2 separate regions of the Homo sapiens genome follow, and region 2 is reported to be linked to region 1. The links are microRNA targets in miRTarBase. Many come from high-throughput screens and were not tested one by one. Region 1 holds a microRNA gene; the other region holds the end of a gene's coding sequence.
What was found. The annotated mature microRNA hsa-miR-574-3p reads CACGCUCAUGCACACACCCACA and lies in region 1 at 1,145-1,166, shown strand. An mRNA with a match to its seed (bases 2 to 7 or 8) in the 3' UTR can be bound and repressed. Matches are read on the target gene's strand: a 7mer-m8 pairs with bases 2 to 8, a 7mer-A1 pairs with bases 2 to 7 and ends in A, and an 8mer does both.

Region 1 (3,166 bases):
CACTATTTTTAAATTGTATTTCCTCCGACTTTTATAGAAAATACAAAATTGTTTACAAAACTAGTTAATACTATAAACACTGCGCTTCCTCCGCATCTGAGTTCATATTAAGCCATATTTGAGGAAGGCCTTCATATGTGGCCTTCCCTCCATGTCAACGAATCCTCATTTTTAAGGGCTACAACATATTCGATGTCTGAAGTTACTGTAGCTTACTTCACCAATCTTACTGGGGGACATTGAGATTGTCTCCGGCTTCCCCCCGCAGAAACAACTACAACAAACATCCTTGTACATACATATTTGCCCATTTGACTGCCTACTTAGGACAAATTCACAAATGTGGAATTCCTAGGCCAAAGCTAATACATCGGAGTTTTAACCCACAGCTCCAAACTGGCCTTCTGGAAAGTGGGTTTTCGTTGTTTGTTTGGGGTTTGTTTGTTTTAAATCTATCACACTCCCACCGACAGGGCAAGGGAGTGCTGCTTAACGCAGAATCAGGAGATCAAACTTTAGCTGAATTTGAGCGACCTCTTCCCAGTGACACGGCGGGGGGTTTTCCAAGCCCTTTTAAGGAAAGGAAAGGGATCTGGCGAACCCCGAGACCCACCCGCCCTGGGCTGGAGAGGCGGCGCGCTCTGGCTTTCCGCGCTGGCACAGGGGTGGGACAAGCCAAGTTTCCAGGAGACTCGCCCAGCGCGGGCCCGGCCCTCGCAGCGTGGGGGTGGCCGGGCGTCCCCGCGGCGCTCCTCGTGGGGCGGGGCGCAGGCGGGGCGGGGCCCCCTCTCCAGCCGCCCGCCCTCCGGCCGCGTCCCCGCCGGCCCTGCAGACGTGGCGGGGCGGGACCCGCTGGGCACTCCCGCGCGTACTCGGCCGCCTGAGCGGTAAGAGCCCCGGGCACTCGGTCCCCATCCCCTTCCCCGGGGGGCGGGCGAGCGCGGGGGCGGCTGCCCGGGGGTGGTGGGAACACCATACCTTGGCGCCTCGTCCGGGACCCACGAATCCTGCCCTCTGCGTTAGTGAGAAGCAGTGGTCAGGGAGGACCCGGCTCTGGGGTGAGGGTCTGGGGCGGCGCGGCCGAGGGACCTGCGTGGGTGCGGGCGTGTGAGTGTGTGTGTGTGAGTGTGTGTCGCTCCGGGTCCACGCTCATGCACACACCCACACGCCCACACTCAGGGTCTGCCCCCTCGGCCTGCGTGAACCTCCGCGGAGCCTGCCTGGATCTCCCAAAGTATCCAGTCCTGGCACCAAGCAAGTCTGGAAAAGTGCCCCCAATGGCTCGGGGCCAAGTCAGAGGTGGGCTGCAGGGTCCCCCAGCCCGGGCACGAAGGGAGCAGGTCCCTGTAAGACAGAGGCCTCGTCCCAGGGTGCGCCTGCCCTCGGCCTTGGCACAGGGAGCTCAGGCCTTGACCTCCCCGCTCCCCTCGCCTTACTCCTCCCCCAACAGCCGACCCACGCCCTGCCTGCTCTTCCAGTCCAGCCAACACTCTAAGCAGGCACCGCCTCCACTCGCAGCCCCCGGGATGGGTCCCACTCCCTACCGCAGATCCCCAGGCCCCCTCCACCCAGTCGGCTAGCCCTCGCCTCTGCCATCCGGTGAGTATTTCCAGGCACCTCAGACCAGGCGCCTGAACGTCACTGCCTTTTCTTAAGTAGGAAGACATCTCTCTATGGGCTGTGAGAGCATTACCTATGCCCTACTGATCCCATCATTTCCCATCCTAAACATCTTGAAGGACACAGGCAGGTGGCTTCTTAAATCAGTGTGCTCTGAACTCCCTGTGACCTCAGCCAACCTGTGACAACTGAGAATGAGACAGGCTCTATCCTCAGAGCCTCTTTTTGCCCTCTCTGCAGCCTAGTGGCTCCTTCCCTACCCCACCCATAGGCCTGCGTCCCCGCCCTCCTTTCTTCCATCAAGCCTGAGCTTGGGAAAGAATCTGATAAACTTCTTACATTGTAACCTTTAAGTGAAGGAATGAGACGTTAGGGATGGATTTGAGGCACAAGTGAGACAGTGCAGAAGGAATTTGAGGGTTGGAGGGGGCTTTCTTGAATCTGAGCGATTCAGACCATAAAAGTAAACTTGTCTTTGTTTATTTGACCAGGCTTACATCAAACATGGTTTCTCTTTTATTAATATCAAACACAATGTATTTCAATTCAGTAAATATCTGAGGGACAGAAACCAACCTAGGTGCTGTTGGTCACAGTCTTGGAGGACAGAATGGCAGAAGTAAATACTCCATAAATACATGGAATAGAAATCTGTGCAAAGTGCCAAAAACATAGAAGAGGTAGCAGTTATTTCATTGGAAGCAGTGGGGCAGATTAAGGAAAAATTCAGAATGAAAGGTAACATTAGACACTGGGTGTCTAGAGGAATAGGAGTTTGCCAGGCAGCTGGAGGAAGGGCAGCACCGGGGCAGAGGAACCAGCGTAAGCAAAGGCAGGGAGATGTGAAGAGTTATGGGGAATGGAGAAAAGACTGGTGAGGCAGGAGTGGAGGATACTGAGAGTTGCAAGAGGTGGAGAGAGATTGGAGCTGGATTATGATGGGAAGTGTGAAGATATTTACACCTAATGGTTTTTGAACAGGAGAGCAAATAGGTCCAAAAATGCCTGGCAGCCTCACAGAGAATAGGCTGGAGCCTGGGTACGTAGACTTGTCAAGCTTTATACAAACTCATACAAACTGCTACAACCTGATTAAGAGCCTCTCATCCAGAGTTTTTATTCCTGGTCCTTCGCTGACTGGCACTGTTTTTGTTTTTTTTTTTTAACTGGGGGAGATGACCTCACACAGGATATCATGCTAACCAAATTTTTATGCTGCCAAGTCAGGCCATTTTTTTTAAAAAAATCCATCCACTGTCACTATTTCATAAAATGAAAGACATTTTAATACCAAGAAAAAGCACAAAGGCTAAACTTGAAAGATGAAGGCAGTCCTTTACATTTAATAAATTTAGATTTATGAAAAACTTGCAATCTTGTCCTCATTTTTCTCTATCATCACAGACTTGCCCCAGTCCTGCAGGTGGAGTTTGGAAAAAAAAGCATCCAGATCAGTTTGTCCATCCTAGCTTTACAGAGGAGCAGGTGTAAGCACAGTGAGGATCAAGTTGTGTGCCCACAAAGGGATACTGGGACCAGAGGCCAC
Region 2 (3,166 bases), not on the chromosome of region 1:
TGCATTTAGGTGACAATAAACATTTCTCATCTCAATATTACTCTATTATTAACAAACAAACAGCCAAAAGAGAAAAAAAAAATCAAGTAGTAAGCAGAGTGTTTATTTTTTTTAAAATTACTTAAAAAAGGTTGTTTACAGAGATGTGGATTTATATAACTTGGTGACAACATTTTTAAAATGTACAGGCTATTTCATATTATTGCACTTACTCTTTAATATATAAGGCATTTTACTTTACATAAATAAAGGTTAATGTATAATATCATACAAAGTTATGGTGCCAATTAAGTCAACCATCAAATTCAATGAGATGTGTGGGAAGATGGAAATGAAACCCAGCCTACTTTAATCTTCATGGTATATTCTTGCAACTACGGTTTACTTGTTATAACACATATTTATTTACCCTCATAGCTTATTGTGAATGACTGACCAGTTAAAAAAAAAGAAACAATGACAGTTTTAGTAGGACAATACCATTAGTGTTCACTTCAGAAAGTGTGGGAATTTATTAGGCTAATTAGAAATACTAGTCATGCCTTGAACACTGAAGACAAATAAATAGCTTTCTATCTATCTTAGGGTCAAAGACAGTTTAGCTTTTGCTTCTTCCCTTAAATTTCAACTGTTTGTTGGCGAGGGAAACCTTCTGGCAAGATGTAGTAGCAGTGGCTGATGACTTTAGCATAGTGTATGTGGTAAGCCAGAGGTCTACCCTTGTACTCCAGATATGAGGATTAAAAAGACTTGCGGAAGGAGACCATTCCATTTGCTCCACATTGCACAAGAAATTCCTGTCTGTTCACATAGGGCTGTGCGTTTATTAATTAATTATTATTAGGCACAGCTGTAAGAGTGGAGGCGAAAAGCAGTTTTCAGTGTTGTTGACTTGAAATAGTCTTTGATTTAGGCAAGAAAGCAGAAACCACAAAACTGACCCCAGAGACTGAAAAACAATCAATCAATATCTATCAATCAAGCATGCACCTTGCACTGACTTCCTACAGTATTCTACCTGTAACTGTAGTGAAAAGTAGAAGTAAAATCAATAAGACCTTTCTAACTAACTCCTGTACCATATTTTCCTTTGTATTGCCAGTTGATGAGAAATCTGGACTCAGACAAGCCAGCTATTTCTCTCTCATCTGAAGGACCTCTCTAGGCCGACTTCAAAGATGTTTAGTGGGATTGGTCATTCAGAAAAATGATGATGTACAAAGCTGATGGCTAAAGCCCCTCCATGAATCTGGGGGTCACAGCCATAGACCCAAGCTGTAGGTTATTTAAAGAAGTATCTCCAACATAAAATCTTAGTGTCATGCACACAGGTATGGCAAATGCACTCTCCACTCATGTTGTCAGGGCTCAACGGGTTGGTTTGTGCCACTGAAGACGACCTGGCTTGTAACTACATTTCTGCTCCTTTACCTTGACTCACCCTGTTTCTCCTCCTCTTTATGACCCGATGAGAGTTTGGAATTATTTACCTAAGAAAATAAGGTACATCATGAGGAGAGAAAAGCCAGCTATGTGACGACGAACGGAATATCCAATCGGAATAGCTACTGGGAAGCAGCTCATGCCACCAGAGGAGGAGTGGCCAGAGTGAGTTTCCCAAGTAGCGTGAGTCACGACAGTCTTCTGTAGGAAAACATTTTTGGCAAAAGGAGGAAATTGCAAAGCGGGAAAACGAAAACAGCAAAAACTTAAGTCACTGCAGTTGTCATTATACTAGGTCAAGAAAAGAGATCCAATACTTAGAATGTTACATTTCTTAAACATGTTGGGAAAGAGGGAAAAAAACCAACCAGTCTCCTAAAAGGATTCCATTAAGCTCCTCTATTTGGATTGTACATACATTGTCTATAAATCCAAGGACACTTAGAAAGATACTTGATTTCTAAAAATTTAGTTTAAATTCATGGTTGGAGTGCATAAAATTCAGAAATGGAAACCCAGTGACTGACTGACTTGTGATATTTTTGTCTGCTCTTGGACTGACCAGTCTTGAATTCAAGCACTTATCAAGACAGGTTCAAAAACTAGTTGTAAGGTGCTTTTAGATGTTGACCTTTCTGCTCCCTCTAAGCAGTGAAGCTCATGGCTATTTAATACAGCTTATCAGAAGTGCTATTCTGTAAAACAGCCTTATGGCTTACACTTTTGAGATAGAAAATGATCAATACTTCATGGTGATCAATAACCTATTGAGTTGAACTTTGCATACGTACATTATACATTACACTCACTAAAAAATACTCTCAATTAATTATTTTGCTTTTTCCTTTTTGGACAATTCCTGAGCTCAGCCTAACAGGTCATAATTCATTTTTTTAAGTAAGTCTTATTCTCTTTTCAGGGTAACATATACAGACCTACATCTCCTCCTTCCATTGAATGTGCCTAAAAGCATTCTGTCATTTACTTACAAAATCATACAAAATGATTGATTGTCCTCTTAGGTGTGACATTTGTGTCCCCCTCAGACTTTTAGTTCCCTGATCACCAGGATTGGGTATGTTGGGAGAGCTGGCAAGAAGGAAGCAAAGGTCTAGCTAAATGTTTGTTTGTTTCAAATAAAGAAGGGTGTGTCACATCTTGTATCCCCATCAGTAAACATAACATAAAGGTAGGGGACAGGCACTGGAACGAAGGAACCCTCCCGGCCTGGGTGACGCAGGTGGAAGGCTTCTGGAGTTAATTTCATTGCTGTTGCACATACAGTTAAGTCAGGCTTCATGTGTAAGCACAAGCTTGGAGATTTTTATAGTCCGTGTCTGTACCAGTGTTGGCCATTTCAACAACCTGTGGTTTAAAGAAGTCACTCTGATTTGCTAAAGAAAGAAGAGAACTGAGAAAATGATTCTTGTTAAAATTCATGAAGAATTCCTATGCTTTCTAATTAATAACTGCACAGGTCCTTCTGGGACAGACTTCATAATATTCCAGGCATCAAAGTGCATGAGCCCAACCAGAGGTTTCCCATTAATAGCAAGAATTTCATCTCCAGCTTCTATTATTCCAGCTTGTTCAGCCGCACCACCTACGAGAATAAACACAGAATAATTAATAGCTTGGCAGTTTCATAGTATTCAAAAATCCTAAGTAAACTAAAAACTTTTAAGTGATAAAAATATCTAAATAATATATTATTGAATAGAGA

Region 2: the mRNA of PDZD2 is a reported target of hsa-miR-574-3p. The part of its 3' UTR that is shown has no 7-base or 8-base seed match.

What each region holds. Positions count from the first base shown.
Region 1 is chr4:38,866,948-38,870,113 of GRCh38, forward strand. It overlaps MIR574 (microRNA 574), which reads left to right and starts at 1,085; the gene lies at 1,085-1,180. It overlaps FAM114A1 (family with sequence similarity 114 member A1), which reads left to right and starts at 859. Exons shown (of 15, transcript NM_138389.4): 1 at 859-887; 2 at 1,451-1,599. It also overlaps a transcript of TLR6 not described here. RefSeq lists silencers at 623-1,102, 1,153-1,202 and an enhancer at 1,410-1,993.
Region 2 is chr5:32,107,849-32,111,014 of GRCh38, reverse strand. It overlaps PDZD2 (PDZ domain containing 2), which reads right to left. Exons shown (of 25, transcript NM_178140.4): 25 at 83-3,046. The coding sequence ends at 2,880. LOC105374711 (a long non-coding RNA gene) reads left to right here and starts at 2,824. Exons shown (of 4, transcript XR_007058716.1): 1 at 2,824-3,166.